Homo sapiens: one gene and its partners. The protein of the gene in region 3 purifies or fractionates together with the protein of the main gene of each other region. This does not show direct contact. Each region holds a gene or a part of one and is shown on either strand. Other genes may lie near its edges.

What was found. Proteins that work in one complex are often made in the same cells at the same time.
Region 1: the proteins of PUDP (region 3) and USP34 purify together in Homo sapiens (affinity purification with mass spectrometry; one large-scale study listed by BioGRID and IntAct). This does not show direct contact.
Region 2: the proteins of PUDP (region 3) and NANP fractionate together in Homo sapiens (co-fractionation; one large-scale study listed by BioGRID). This does not show direct contact.
Region 4: the proteins of PUDP (region 3) and FCSK purify together in Homo sapiens (affinity purification with mass spectrometry; one large-scale study listed by BioGRID and IntAct). This does not show direct contact.

The regions. Positions count from the first base shown.
Region 1 is NC_000002.12:61,191,510-61,195,104, forward strand, and holds part of USP34 (ubiquitin carboxyl-terminal hydrolase 34), read right to left. Parts: intron 1,472-3,595; coding exon 1,392-1,471; intron 1-1,391. UniProt on the Homo sapiens protein: Ubiquitin hydrolase that can remove conjugated ubiquitin from AXIN1 and AXIN2, thereby acting as a regulator of Wnt signaling pathway.
Region 2 is NC_000020.11:25,621,137-25,625,451, reverse strand, and holds the start of NANP (N-acylneuraminate-9-phosphatase), read left to right. Parts: upstream 1-1,437; 5' UTR 1,438-1,503; coding exon 1,504-1,593; intron 1,594-4,315. UniProt on the Homo sapiens protein: Catalyzes the dephosphorylation of N-acylneuraminate 9-phosphate (Neu5Ac-9-P) to N-acetylneuraminic acid (Neu5Ac or sialic acid). Can also use N-glycoloylneuraminate 9-phosphate as substrate.
Region 3 is NC_000023.11:7,048,357-7,051,318, forward strand, and holds the end of PUDP (pseudouridine-5'-phosphatase), read right to left. Parts: intron 2,117-2,962; coding exon 1,940-2,116; 3' UTR 564-1,939; downstream 1-563. UniProt on the Homo sapiens protein: Dephosphorylates pseudouridine 5'-phosphate, a potential intermediate in rRNA degradation. Pseudouridine is then excreted intact in urine.
Region 4 is NC_000016.10:70,468,078-70,471,672, forward strand, and holds part of FCSK (L-fucose kinase), read left to right. Parts: intron 1-771; coding exon 772-891; intron 892-1,074; coding exon 1,075-1,246; intron 1,247-2,236; coding exon 2,237-2,349; intron 2,350-2,893; coding exon 2,894-2,995; intron 2,996-3,104; coding exon 3,105-3,275; intron 3,276-3,595.

The sequences.
Region 1 (3,595 bases), on a different chromosome or scaffold from region 3:
GATCCTTAACACTAGGAAAAACCTGCCTTGGTCTACCAGTCACAGCCTGTGCCTCTGCCTCTGTTTCTTGCTCAGGATGGCTGCTTCTATAGCACTGGAAGCTTTGGAGGCCTTATATGGTTAGGCTTTGTTTTAAGGGAAATTTGGGGGCACAGTGAGTTCTGTCTGTGAAAGAAGTCAAGCGAAGGGAGTCCTGCGATGCAGAAGTAGAGAAAGCAATAGGGAGCAATAGGTAGTGGGAGAGTACAGAAACCAAGAAACTACCCAAATCAGGAAGAATGAAAAAGAACAGCAGTAGCAGTGGAGAGGGAAAACGAGATCTCCAATTGACTGAACAGAACACTCAGCTCAAAAATCAACTGATAAAAGTCATTTTCTGAATGCCTACTGTATGCTAAGTCAAGTGAGCTAAGATCAGTGTATACTAGCCTCTGAAAGATTTCTACTGTAGAGAACAACGTGGCATTTCTTCAGGGGATGGAGATGACTCTGATAAGGTCTCTACACTTGAGTTCTGTTTTGGAAAAGTAGAGAAACCACCAGTAGAGTACAGGATGGCAAACATCTAGGAGAATCCAGAGCACACTACAGCCTGGTAGGAGGCTGAACCAGACTCAAAATACTTCAGGAAAGCATGATGTGGGTCAAGGGTTGCACCTAAGGAAGGTGAATAAATTCATCTCTTCCAATGGGGTAGAGCAGATGCAACCAGGCAGTACAATCAACAGTTTTTTCAGGGACTGAAAGGTAGTGGGGATCCTTTATGCCTGATCCAAGGAATGAGCCAAACATTAGTACCTCCTCCTCTTCCCAATTCTGCCTTTGTAACTTAACAAGCATTATTTATGCAGCCACTTAATTTTAAGGAGTTGGCTCTTAGACACTTAAGGTAGGAACAGTAATCTTTCCTGTTTTCAAGGAGATCGCTGTAAGAAAACAAGTGCATCAGACCCCTGAAAAACTACAGATTATGAAAAGCTAAAGGACAGACTGCTGACAGGGTTTCTGCTAGAGGTTTTGGAATGGTGGAAAAGAGGTAGAGACAGGGAGGTGAAGGAGAGGAAGAAGTGGCAAGTGCCTTTTCCCCCACTATCTCCCTGTTTTGGATTTTCCCCACAACTGTTGATATACATCTATAAATGAGAAATTCAATTATAACCAGCTTATTTAAAATATCCTCTATGATAGAAATCTACTTAAGTTAAAAAAATCAAAGGGAAACTAGATGCCTAATATGTAATAGCTAGTATTTTCATTCATTCATATGTTACCTATCAAGATTCTAAAATGTCCCCACTTTTCAGCAAGTCTTCAACCCACTGTTCCTAAAATTATTGACCACTTGGTCAGATAAGATTAAAGACCAATCATCTAAAACTCATTTTCTTTACCTGAGTCTGGCATAGCTCAGTCCAAAGTTTGGGGAACAGTGCAAGATGAAGTGGCAAACCTTCATAGGCAACTAGGACACCTAATATTTGAAAAGAAATCAGAATAGGTTATAATTATAAATTATACTAGTGAGATACTCAACTCTGCAGGTACAATATTACAGCTATTTCTAGTCATAACTGCATATTTTCTATATTTTAAAGTACATAAAGGGGAAAAATTCATTCCAATGTTTAGTGAAATATCTTAGAATGTGGTACTTTGAATTTATTTATATCCTATACCTCATTCCTGAAGGATATGGGACTTAAATCAACTCTTCTTTTTTGAGTATTAGAACTTTATCTGGGAAAAGAAAAAGTTACTGCAAGTGGCTCCAAATCTTTCTTGGATTAAGGTACCACTCTGCCTATTAGATAATTTTCATAGGGTGGCTAGACTGCAGGAGGGAGGAGGGGAAAGGTAAAAAAAAAAAAAAAAAAAAAAAAGTGGAGAATTAAACATATCTTTCCTCTTTTACCTTCTTTCTTCAAAGATAGAATGACCTTTGTGGTACATTTAAGTAAATGCGGCCCTTAACACCAGTTTCTTGGCTTGTTCCCAGGATCTTCTGAGTGGACCGCATCTGGCACTATGTCAGAGAGTGCTATTTGGAACCTCTATGAATTTACTTCTCCACTTCTTGACTATTCCAGATGTAAAATATGTCACTAAGATGTGTGCCCCTATCCTCTGTCATCCTATCTCTGAAAGTACAGAAGCTTCATTACCACAGTCCTAAATGAATTTCCCATCTTCCACATCCCCTAGGGTCCCCAGGGCAAGTATAATCATGGAGAAGAAGAAATATAACACAGACCATCCTCTTCCAGTTAAGAAAAGACTGAGTTAGACAAGGAGTCAGCAAACTTGTTCTGGGAAGGGCCAAATAGTGTTTGAGGCTTTGTGGCCATGCTCTGTTAACACAGCTCAACCCTGCTGAGGCAGTGTGAAGGCAGCCTTAGACAAGAGTAAGGAAATGGGTGTGGCTGTCTTTCAGTAAAACTTTACAAACACTGAAATGGGAATCTCATAATTTTCATGTCAGAAAATATTCTATATTAAAAAAAAATTTAAAAATATGAAAACTATTCTTAGCTAGCAGGTAGCCATGGTTATACAAAAACAGGCAGCATGTGGGTTGTAATTTGCCAAACCGTGGGTTAGACCAAGGACTTGAGAACATCCTACACAGGCAAGTCAGGTCACTCACTCAGAACTTACCAAGGATGCCTAGGATCCCTTCCACAGGTAAGCCAATTTATTTTCCTGTCAAGATGAGTCCCTTTAGACACAAGAGGCAAGGAAATGCTACTTCCCCTTTATCCTAACCTAATCTGGTTGGTGTTTGGCAGCATATACCCACCACGGTATCACCACACACATAGGTAAACAAGGACATGTCATCACATCTGTGGCTATAGGGAAGAGAGTTCCTACGTTCCCATGTTCCTGTATCCTAATTACTCATCAAAGTAGAGGAAGGGTTAGCAAACTATGGCCCTCAGGCCAAATCTGACCCATGGCCTGTTTTTATATGGACTTGTGAGCTAAGAATGGCTTTTTCTTTGAGACAGACAGTGTCTTCACTCTGTTGCCCAGGTTGGAGTGCAGTGGCGTGATCACAGATCAGGGGCAGCCTTGAACCGCTGTGCTCAAGTGATCCTTACACCTTAGCCTCCGTAGTAGCTAAGACTGCAGGCTGGGACAATTTTCTTAAAAAAATATTTTGGGGCCAGGCGCAGTGGCTCATGCCTGTAATCCCAACACTTTGGGAGGCCAAGGTGGGCGGATCACCTGAGGTCAGGAATTCGCAACCAGCCTGACCAACATGGAGAAACCGTCTCTAGTAAAAATACAAAACTAGCAGGGCGTGGTGGCACATCCCTGTAATCCCAGCTACTTGGGAGGCTGACGCAGGAGAATTGCTTGAACGCGGCAGGCGGAGGTTGCGGTGAGCCGAGATCGTGCCATTGCACTCCAGCCTGGACAACAAGAGTGAAACTCTGTCAAAAAAAAAAAAAAAAAAAGTTTTGGGCCAGGTATGGTGACTCACGCTGGTAATCCCGGCACTTTGGGAGGCCGAGGCAGGAGAATAATGAAACCCCGTCTCTACTAAAAATACAAAAATTGGCTGGGTGTGGTGGCACACACCTGTAATCCC
Region 2 (4,315 bases), on a different chromosome or scaffold from region 3:
GTCTCGCTTACAATTACTCAACTCTGTCTGCTTCTGTATGGCAACAGCAGCCACAGACGATACAGAAATGAATGTGTGCGCTGTGTTCTAATGCAACTATGGGCACTAAAATTTCTTGATTTTCATGTGTAACAAAACACTGTTATTTTGATTTTTTAAATCCATTTACAAATGTAAAAATCACCCTTAGCCAGGCGCGGTGGCTCACGCCTGTAATCCCAGCTCTTTGGGAGGCCAAGACGGGTGGATCACGAAGTCAGGAGTTCGAGAACCAGCCTGGCCAACATGGTGAAACTCCGTCTCTACTAAAAATACAAAAATTAGCCGGGGGGTGGTGGCATGCGCCTGTAATCCCAGCTACTCAGGAGGCTGAAGCCGGAGAATTGCTTGAACCCGGGAGGCGGAGGTTGCAGTGAGCCAAGATCGTGCCACTACACGCCAGACTGGGTGACAGAGCAAGACTCCATCTCGAAAATAAAAATAAAAATAAATTAAAAAATAAAAAAAACCACTTAGCTCACTGGCTAAACAAAATCAGGTAATTGGCCTGTACCTGACAGTCAATTTCTGGTCACTAATGATGACCACATATCCAAATTACAGTAAAGGTACCCAAGAGAGACAAAGATTAGAGATTAGTGTTACGATCCCCGTTCTGCCAGCACTAGGAGACAAGAGTTGCTACAGCCCTTCCGCGGGTTTAAAAGGCGGTCGACGTCCCTCAACCTCTTGCTATGCCTGAAAACAACCGAGTAAAAGGCATCCAAAGACCTGAGAACGCAAGGTTTCAGGAAAACAATCAGGAAGGGCAAAACATGGGGCAGCCACTACACAGCCCCTCCGTCTTAGGGCACAGGTACTAAACGGGTTGTAAGAGACCCAAGTCACATCCTTCAGAAACGTGCTGGCGCGGGCCCAGGCAGACAGGGATTCCACCCCGGCGAAGGCCGCAAATGGCGCGAGGCGGGAAGGCGCAGGCTCCACCTTCCCCCGTCCCCAGATCACCTACAGTGACCTGCGCGTACAGGCAGGCTAGGACCGCGGGCGCTCAAGGCAGACATCAGGCCCGCCGACGTCTCCGCGCCGCCCGCCCGGCCACCCGGAGAGCCTGCTGCCCAGCGCCTGGCAGCGCGGACAACCTCTCTCGGGGAGGTGATGACGGTCCCTCGCGCCGGAGGGCCCAGGGAGGAAAGAGATAAGCAGAAAGACACCAGGGAAGAACACCACGCTTCGGACCAACGCCAGCCACAGCCACTGAGAAGTCGCCGCATCCGGCGGCGCCGACACACGTTTCCAGGGCTCTTGAGAGACCATACCCTGGGAGTCTCGCGGGATCTCACTTTTCTCGGCGGCGCAGGGAATGAGACAGATCGCGGGAATTCCACCCGCGCCGGGAGATGGTCTGGTGACTTCGCGGCTCCTCCCACGTCTCTCTGGGCAGTCCGCCTTGCGCATGCGCAGGCGGCGGTGGCAAGGCTACGGTTCGCGCCAGCGGCCGGCGCTATGGGGCTGAGCCGCGTGCGGGCGGTTTTCTTTGACTTGGACAACACTCTCATCGACACGGCCGGGGCGAGCAGGAGAGGCATGTTGGAGGTAACGTCCCCACCCATGGCGCTCCTCTGGGCGGGGTCAGTGCGCCCCGCCCCGTCCTGCACGCTCACCTCCCCTTGACCCCACTTCCACCCCGGCGCCGCGGGCCGCTCTTGCTGGTTGAAACCTGTGGAGCGTGCGGGTGCGGAGGTGGCTGGAGGCGCGCGGGCCCTGCGGGTCTGCTTTCCCTGGCCTGGCGGCCGCTTGTCACCCAATCTCGAGCCCTGGAGCGGCTGCTCGCAGGTGCCTTGGCGCTCGGGACGCGGAAGGGCTCCGTGACGGCTGCCACGGTGGCGGAGGTGCCCGTGGGCGCGGGAGGCGACAGCAAAGCCGCGAGACCAGGCGCTGGTCCCGCCCCCGGTCAGACTGTCGGTGTGGAGCTCGACAGAGGGTCGTGTCCCCCATGCGACTTTCGGGGTTGCTGGGAGGAGACATGGTAGAGTTAGCCCCAGTGTTGACCCAAGAAGGGACACGGCTGTCAGTACCGAGCCTGGACTTAAGCCCTGCTTTAGAGAATTGTCGCCGCAGAACTTCTTCTGGCCTCCCTGGCGGGGTGGTGGTCACCGTGGCTTTCTGACACGTGACACAGCAAAAGCCCGTGCTGCGAGGGCATGCCCTTCCTGAGGCGCTCCTCCGCGGCACTGCCCCTCTACACGCGCGGAGGCGCTTTCAGACCTTCCCGTGTTCCAGCCCCAGTCCACCCCGGCTTCCCTTTCTCTACCTTCAGCTTCAAGGGGAAAGGGAAGGATTTATCAGATGTGGAAAACTCACTTTCAAAAGCTAATTCATCCAAACCTGAGCGCCCCGTCCTCTTCATGCTTCATCAGTTAGTTTTTGTGTCCCTGGATCTTCCACTACCTCATCCGTTTTCTTTTTAGCTGCATTCCACTCCTGCCGCATATTCATGTTTGCCCTATAGTTTTAAAAAAGCTGTAAAAAGGATGCCTCCCTTTGGGCTATTCTTCCTGCTGTAGATGTTGCCTGTCTCTCTTGACAGCCATGTTTTCCCGGAGAAATCTATACCCGTTATCTCCTTGTCTCTACCTCCTATTTATTACTAAATCCATCGTAATGTCGCTTTATCTTCACCGCTAGACTGAAATAGACTTGCTGGATCACTAGGCATTCCCAAAATGCCGGAATCAGTAGACATTTTTAAAGTCTGTCTTCATGACTTTACTGAGGCATTCCACACTTTTAACTTGTTGGCCTCCACCTCAGGGGTGCCACCCTGTGCCATATTGCCTCCAGTATCTCTCGCTGCAGATGTTACATATTTACCTGTGTGTTATTAGTAAGCTGAGTCCTGTGCATTTCAATTAAATTATTGCTTTAGGCCAATTCTTGCTGTAGGCCCAGAGTTTGGGCTTTAAAATCAGACATTTGAATATGAATCACAGCTCTCCCAAAACCTAGCTGAAAGTGCCTCAAGGAATTAACCACTCGGAGCCTTATATCTTCATAAAATGTGAATTATATTAGTCCTCAATAACCCTGTAATACTTGGGAAGCCCATGGTTGCAGTGTCCACTCAGCGAACTATAGCACCTTCCACCCTCGTACGCTGTCTGTCCACCACTGCACATGCCCCGTGCATGTCTCAGTTACAGCTGAACTCATCTCTCACCTAGACTGTTGCTGTGGGCTTGTCTCCAGGTTTACCACATCCAGTGTGTCCTCCACATTCTTGCCACAGCAATATTTTTAAAACAAAGACTAAATCGTATGCCTCCCTGGTCTTTACACCCTCACTTATAGTAGTGCTGTATTTTGTTCAGATATTTCTTAATGCATCTGTCAAAGGATATTTCAATTAATTTTGCAACTCAGGTGCCTACTACTAAATAGTGAGCTTCTTGGGAGGGAACAAGCTGTCTTAATTATCCTCGTTTGACACATGGCAAATGTTGAATAAATGCTGGATGGATGGATACAAATTTTTACTTCGAGACTTGGTTCTATTACTGCCTCCTTTATAATTACAAATCATTGTAAATAATTTATGAATGGGCCGGGCGCGGTGGCTCACGCCTGTAATCCCAGTACTTTGGGAGACCGAGATGGGCAGATCACGAGGTCAGCAGATGGAGACCATCCTGGCTAACACGGTGAAACCCCGTCTCTACTAAAAATACAAAAATTAGCCGGGTGTGTTGGCGGGCGCCTGTAGTCCCAGCTACTGGGGAGGCTGAGCCAGGAGAATGGCGTGAACCCGGGAGGCGGAGCTTGCAGTGAGCCGAGATCGCGCCACTGCACTCCAGCCTGGGCGACAGAGCCAGACTCCGTCTCAAAAAATAATAATAATTTATGAATGGAGGAAGAGGGAAAGGTCCAGCCATTTATGGCCTTGGGCTTGGGGAGAAGAGGTCATATACTGACTGTATGTATCAACTTTAATTTTTTCTAATCACCTAGGGAAGTTATTTTTTTTCTCCCTCTTTAGACCTGTTTTTCATGGTAATTACTCAAGAGGAACTTTTCTACAGAAGCCTGGAGTTTCTCAGTGAACAAAGCAGAAGAGATTTCTGCATTTGTGAATTTACTTCTTAGTGGGTATGGCAGTGAACATAATAAATATTTACAGGTGTGATAGAAAAAGCAGAGAGGGTAACAAATCAACATTTTAAATAGACTGGTCAGATTTGGCCTCATCGAGTAGGTGATGTTTGTGCACAGACTTGAAATAAAAATAACAGAAGCGCTGCTTGAATTGCTAGGCTGAGTG
Region 3 (2,962 bases):
GTATCACTCTAGTGTAAATTTGTATTACCATATCTCTGTGAAATCCATGAGCTATTCAATGGAGTAACATCACTAAAATGTATTGAAGCAATTTGGCTAATGTGGAAGAATAAAAAAGAACGTATGTGCTTTGGCCAAGCATCAGTGTGTGTCCTTTGTCTAAAAATATAAGAATCTGGCAGCAGCTTTGGTTAAAAAACAGTAACGGACATGAGATCAAATTTACCCTGTAGGAAATTCACCCAGATGTAGATGCACATCACTTAGATATGCATTACACCCATTTGTCTTATTCATACAAAATGGCTTAATGATTAGAAAACACCAACATAAATACTTGGGAAGGAGAAGATACTAAATCAAAGAAGTAAGTCTTTCATTGAAAGCCTCTATTCACCACTGCAGGAGCAGGACGGCTCACTTAAAATATATAAATATCCGTTTACAGTTGGAGTACTAATTGGGATTTTTAAAAAATTTAATTAGTCACATATATATTTTACATTTCTTGGAAGACTGTTTTTTTCTTTTTAAGGTAAAATCATGACTCTCATACAAATATCAACATGTGTCAAAAGATTTTATTAAACTAATTCAATTTGTTAGGGAAATGGTAAGATGTTACAACTGGTTAAGAGGAGCATTAAAAGTGCAGACATATATTCAGGCCATCAAGAATGAGGAAATGAATTTGCTAAATTGATGCAACATCAATCAATAGCCAGGGCCTGTCATTCACAGACAATCACTCCACCACACGCACACATACATTCCTACGGTTTGTCCACAACTTCCAGAGCTGAAGAGTAGCTCAAGGACATCAAAGGGCAGAGGCCCCTAGGAAGGGCTGAGCCACAATGAAGCAGTGCTCCTTCACTCCCGATTTCCATGGCTACCACCGTTTTTCTCTGGCAAATCAGAGACGAATTTTAAAGACTGAGTAAATCTATAAAAGCGATTAATCACAGAAGTTCAATGTCTGATAAATTATTCCAAAAGTGTTCCTGGGCACTGAGACTCACCAAGCATACATTCTGAAATCAAATTCTATTTCTATCCAAAAAGTGCAGCCCATCAGTGTTCTTAAAGGAGGCAAATGGTTGTTGTGAGGTAGCAAACATTTTCCAATGCAGGTAAGGATGTAGATACCAGGTAAATGTTACAGTTGTGTTCATACTAACAATAAACTATGGATGACGTGGCACAGAGTCAGTCAATGAGGAAAGATCCAGAGACATTCTGAGGTCACAAAAAGAATTTAAATGTTAGCTAACAAGGAGTGCTCATCAAAAACAGGACTTTCCCACTCAGACTGCAAACCAGGCAGAACTACCATCTCGCTTTATCAGTTGTCATTGCATGTTGACATCAACACTGAGGAGAGTGATGCAGACGATAGATATAAACATATCTACATACATATGCATACATAAAGCATATACTTATATGCATACACAGTTTACATTTCCCAGCCAGTGTTCAGAAAAACTAGAAGAGAGAAGTGATGTTCCATTTTGTCTTGGAAAAGTATATATTTTACATATACATGCATGCATATGTCTACATACATATGCATGTAATGCCTACCTGCATATTACCAAACTGATACACACATGTATATATGGAGGTGTGTGTGTATATACATGTACATTCACTTTATCACATACTCCATCAGCTTGACTTCTGAGATGGTAATTCAAGTTTCATCTTTGTTCTGGGCTTCGTTTCTGTCTCTACTGTATTTTTTGTCTCAACCGTCAAGTCACATTTTATCAACACGTTAGACTGGGACAAACCAACATGGGATGGAAACTCCAATCTCAGGAGGCTAAAATCACAGCGCAGGTTGGGATTGAAGAGTTGCTGATTTCCTTTCCCTTTCCCCCAGCAGTGTGGACCATGAGAGTGGGCTGGGGGCGGAAGACTGAGGCCCTCCCTCTCACTCATAGGAGGGCAAACCAAACAGCTCGGGCTGGAAGTCCTGCAGGGAATTCAGCACCAGGGTGGCCTTTGTTGTCAGATCTCGGCTCAAGTTTCCGTCAGGAACCATGACCACCTGCATCCCAGCTGCCAGGGCCGCCTCCACCCCATTGGGAGCATCTTCAAAGACAAGGCACTGTAGGAAGAAAAAGAAAGTCGAGATGGCCTTTTATGGAACCAGACATGTGGATGAAGTGTTTATTATCGTCGTCACCATTGGCTCTGCAACTGTGCAGAAAGAGACAGAATTACAGTGGGGGCTCCCCAGAGTAGAGATTGTGGTGAGGACAGCATGCTGTTTCTTACTGGCTCCGGGGGTCTCCCCGCCGTGGCTCCTTTAAAGGGGAGAGGTTTCTGTTGCAGCCAAAGCATTGTTGAAATGGAGCGCAGCTGTGTGGTGAGGCAAGATTCTCAGCTTAAAACTTTATTATTTTATTGGGATCATAACAATCTGTTCAATCAATAATTGAACATTCAGAGTGTGAGAGGCAATTGCAAAACTAAAAATCATGCTCTTAAAATATAAAACCACTTCAGAGCTGCTCCTGTTTTATGTACTGTGGTTTGAAAATTAAATGGTTAGAATCTTTTAAGTTAAAAATTCAGTTCCTGTGTGTGCTAGTGTGACGTGACAAATGAGCACGAAAACGTAGTGTGCGTGCATGCTCTCTTTTGGATAATCGCGAAAATCCACTTTATTATTGGGATTACAGACACAACACCATCCAAAACCCGTGGTCTCTTCATTCAGATACCCACATTGAAAATGGGGTGTTTCCTACTGGCAACTGCAAAGATATGGAACCAACCTAAGTGCCCATCCACCAATGAGCGGATAAAGAAAATGAGGCATATATACACCATGGAATACTACTCAGACATAAAAAGGAATGAAATAATGTCTTCTGCAGCAACATGGATGGAGCTGGAGGCCATTATTCTAAGTAACTCAGGAATGGAAATCCAAATATCGTATGCTCTC
Region 4 (3,595 bases), on a different chromosome or scaffold from region 3:
AATCTGAGGACAGGGTAGCCTTGGAATTCAGGGTCTTGTCCTGAGCCAGAAAGCCTAGAACCAGGCGGGCACGGTGGCTAACGCCTGTAATCCCAGCACTTTAGGAGGCTGAGGCGGGTGGATCAGTTGAGGTCAGGAGTTCGAGACCAGTCTGGGCAACGTGGTGAAACCCTGTCTCTACTAAATACAACAATTAGCTGAGCATGGTGGTGTGTGCCTGTAATCCCAACTACTTGAGAGGTAGAGGCTCGAGAATCGCTTGAACCCAGGAGGCGGAGGTTGCGGTGAGCAGAGATCGTGCCACTGCACTTCAGCCAGGGTGACAGAGCGAGACTCTGAATCAATCCCCTGCCCGCTGTAAAACAAAACAAAGCAAACCTCAAAAACTCAAACGAAAAAAGAAAGCCTAGAACCAGAATGTGAGCAAGTTAGGGAGTGCGGTTGGGAGGAGGCCTAGAGCCAGACTCCGGGAATGCTTCCATCATGAGGGGCAAGGATTGGAGAGGCATGGAGATCTGGGAGTGGACCATGGCGAGGGTGGAGAACTGGGTTCAGGAGAAGGCCTGACAGTTGAGGGTGTCCCAGAAGGTGTCTTGGTGGGAGCTACCCCAAGTAAGCCTGGAGTCTGGCTGCTGGAGTGGTCAGAAGGTGACACTCCCTGCCTGGTATGGCACTCAGCTTCATGTGGCCCATCTGCATGTGCCCTCCCTGACTTGTACCAGGGCCTGGTCCAGGGCCCTCCATCTCTGATCCTTTTGGGGTCCCTTCCAGGTCTCTGGGGTTGTCTTCTTCTCTGTGGAGACTGCCGAGCGCCTCCTAGCCACCCACGTGAGCCCGCCCCTGGATGCCTGCACCTACCTAGGCTTGGACTCCGGAGCCCGGCCTGTCCAGGTGACTGGGGGAGGGCAGCTAGGTGGGGCCTGGCTTGGGGGCGAGGCACTGTGTGACCTCAGGCCAGCCACTTCCCCTCTCTGGGGCAGAGTCTCCGCAGACGGGACTGCCCTGGTTCAGCCTCAGAACTTGGGGGCTGAACCCCTGCCATGCCAATAGCTGTGCTTCTTCCCCTTCCCCTAGCTGTCTCTGTTTTTTGACATTCTCCACTGCATGGCTGAGAACGTGACCAGGGAGGACTTCCTGGTGGGGAGGCCCCCAGAGTTGGGGCAAGGCGATGCAGATGTAGCGGGTTATCTGCAGAGCGCCCGGGCCCAGCTGTGGAGGGAGCTTCGCGATCAGCCCCTTACCATGGGTGGGTACTGCCTCTCAGCTCCCTGGGGTGGGGAGACCATGGGAGTGAGGACCCCAAGAATGGAGCTGCTCACTGCATGCTGGGCCAGGCAGCCCAGCACAGGGACTGGGCAGTTCTCCTGTCCTGTGCCAGAGCCCCCCACTGAGCTACCTCCTTCCCCTTCTTGTCTTCCTTTTGTCTCATTCCTGGGCTCTCCCAGCCTGTCCACTTTTGTTTCTGTTTTTTTTTGTTTGTTTGTTTTGTTTTTTGAGACGGACTCTCTCTTTGTCGCCCCGGCTAGAGTGAGGTGGTGCGATCTCAGCTCACTGCAACCTCCGCCTCCTGGGTTCAAGCAATTCTCCTGCCTCAGCCTCCTGCGTACCTGGGATAATAGCCATGCATCATCACACTTGGCTAATTTTTCTATTTTTAGTTGGTCAGGCTGGTCTTGAACTCCTGGCCTCAGGTGACCCGCCTGCCTTGGCCTCCCGAAGTGCTGGGCTTACAGGCATGAGCCACCATGCCCGGCCCTAACCTGTCTGCTTTCTTTTTTTTTTTTTGAGACAGAGTATGGCTCTGTTGCCCAGGCTGGAGTGCAGTGGCGTAATTTCGGCTCACTGCAACCTCTGCGTCTCAGGTTCAAGCGATTCTCCTGCCTCAGCTGCCTGAGTAGCTGGGATTACAGGTGCGTGGCACCATGCCTGGCTAATTTTTGTATTTTTAGTAAAGATGGGATTTCACCATGTTGGTCAGGCTGGTCTCGAACTCCTGACCTCGTGATCTGCCTGCCTCGGCCTCCCAAAGTGCTGGGATTACAGGCGTGAGCCACTGTGCCCGGCCAACCTGTCTACTTTCTAGCTGTGTTGTGTGGCTTTGGGCAGGTTCCTGACTCAGCTTCCCCTAACAGGCTCATGGCCACACCTGCCCCCATGTGTCTCTGCTGCTGGGAGGCAGCCTGGCCCCTGAGTCGCAGCAGGCATGGGGTTGGGTTCAGTACTTATGTCTTTACAGCCTATGTCTCCAGCGGCAGCTACAGCTACATGACCTCCTCAGCCAGTGAGTTCCTGCTCAGCCTCACACTCCCCGGGGCTCCTGGGGCCCAGATTGTGCACTCCCAGGTGGAGGTGAGACCTCCCTGCCCCTCCGGTGCCTGCTGGTTGTCTGGGGTCAGGTGGGATGTGGATTCCCGGGAAGAAAATAGCCGGCACTTGGAACAGATGACCCGAGTGCAGGTGTTACCCTGGTTTACACATGAAGTGCTGGAGGCTCAGAGAGGCTAAGTAACTTGCCTAAGGCCACAGAGCCAGTAAGTGGCCAACTCAGGATTCTGCATTGAGCTTGCCTGATTGAGAAGCTAAAGGAGACCTTTATTTGGGGTCTGCCTGGGGTGACAGTGGTGGGCCTGGGTCAGTGCCGTGCTGCTGAGGAAGGGGACAGGTAGGGTTCAGAGGTGGCCCCCAGGGTGGCAAGGTTGGGCGTAGTTGGACAGGTGGGATGGAAATAGGTCTCAGGCTGGGGCCAAGGCAGGTCCAGAGAGGAGTCTAGGGTGCTGCAGGGCAGGGGAGCAGTAGGCCTGGACGCTTTGCCCCTGGATGCTTGGCTTGGGAGGAGAGCTGGGGCAGCCCTGGGCCTCGACCCCCCTCATGCTCCTCCTACCTGGCTGCACAGGAGCAGCAGCTTCTGGCGGCCGGGAGCTCTGTGGTCAGCTGCCTGCTGGAGGGCCCTGTCCAGCTGGGTCCTGGGAGCGTCCTGCAGCACTGCCACCTGCAGGTGAGGCCTGAGCGTGTGGGCAGATTGGGGCGAGGGTGCTGGCATCCCGCATGTGTTGGGGGGTGTTGGGTGCCTGCCCACCCAGGATGCCTGCCCTGTCCCCCACCAGGGCCCCATTCACATAGGCGCTGGCTGCTTGGTGACTGGCCTGGATACAGCCCACTCCAAGGCCCTGCATGGCCGGGAGCTGCGTGACCTTGTCCTGCAGGGACACCACACGCGGCTACACGGCTCCCCGGGCCACGCCTTCACCCTCGTTGGCCGTCTGGACAGCTGGGAGGTAGGCAGTCACCCTGCATTCCCTCACCCCCATCTTCAGGCTTTGGGGAGCCCAAGGAGTCCTGGCCCCCACCCCACTGCGGGGTTCTCTGAGCACTGGCCCGTGGGACAGGCTGTGAGGAGGGTCGGATGTAGGGAGGAGAGAATGAGGGAGGAGATAGGGTGAAGATAGGCTGTGAGACCAGCAGAGTCTCCACAGGCCTTTACCTCCCTCCTTGCATCTGCTCTGCCAGGTGGGCTGGGTGGGGATTTTGTTTTTTTTCTGGAGATAGAGTCTTGCTCTATCACCAAGGCTGGAGTGCAGTGGCCCAATCTCAGCTC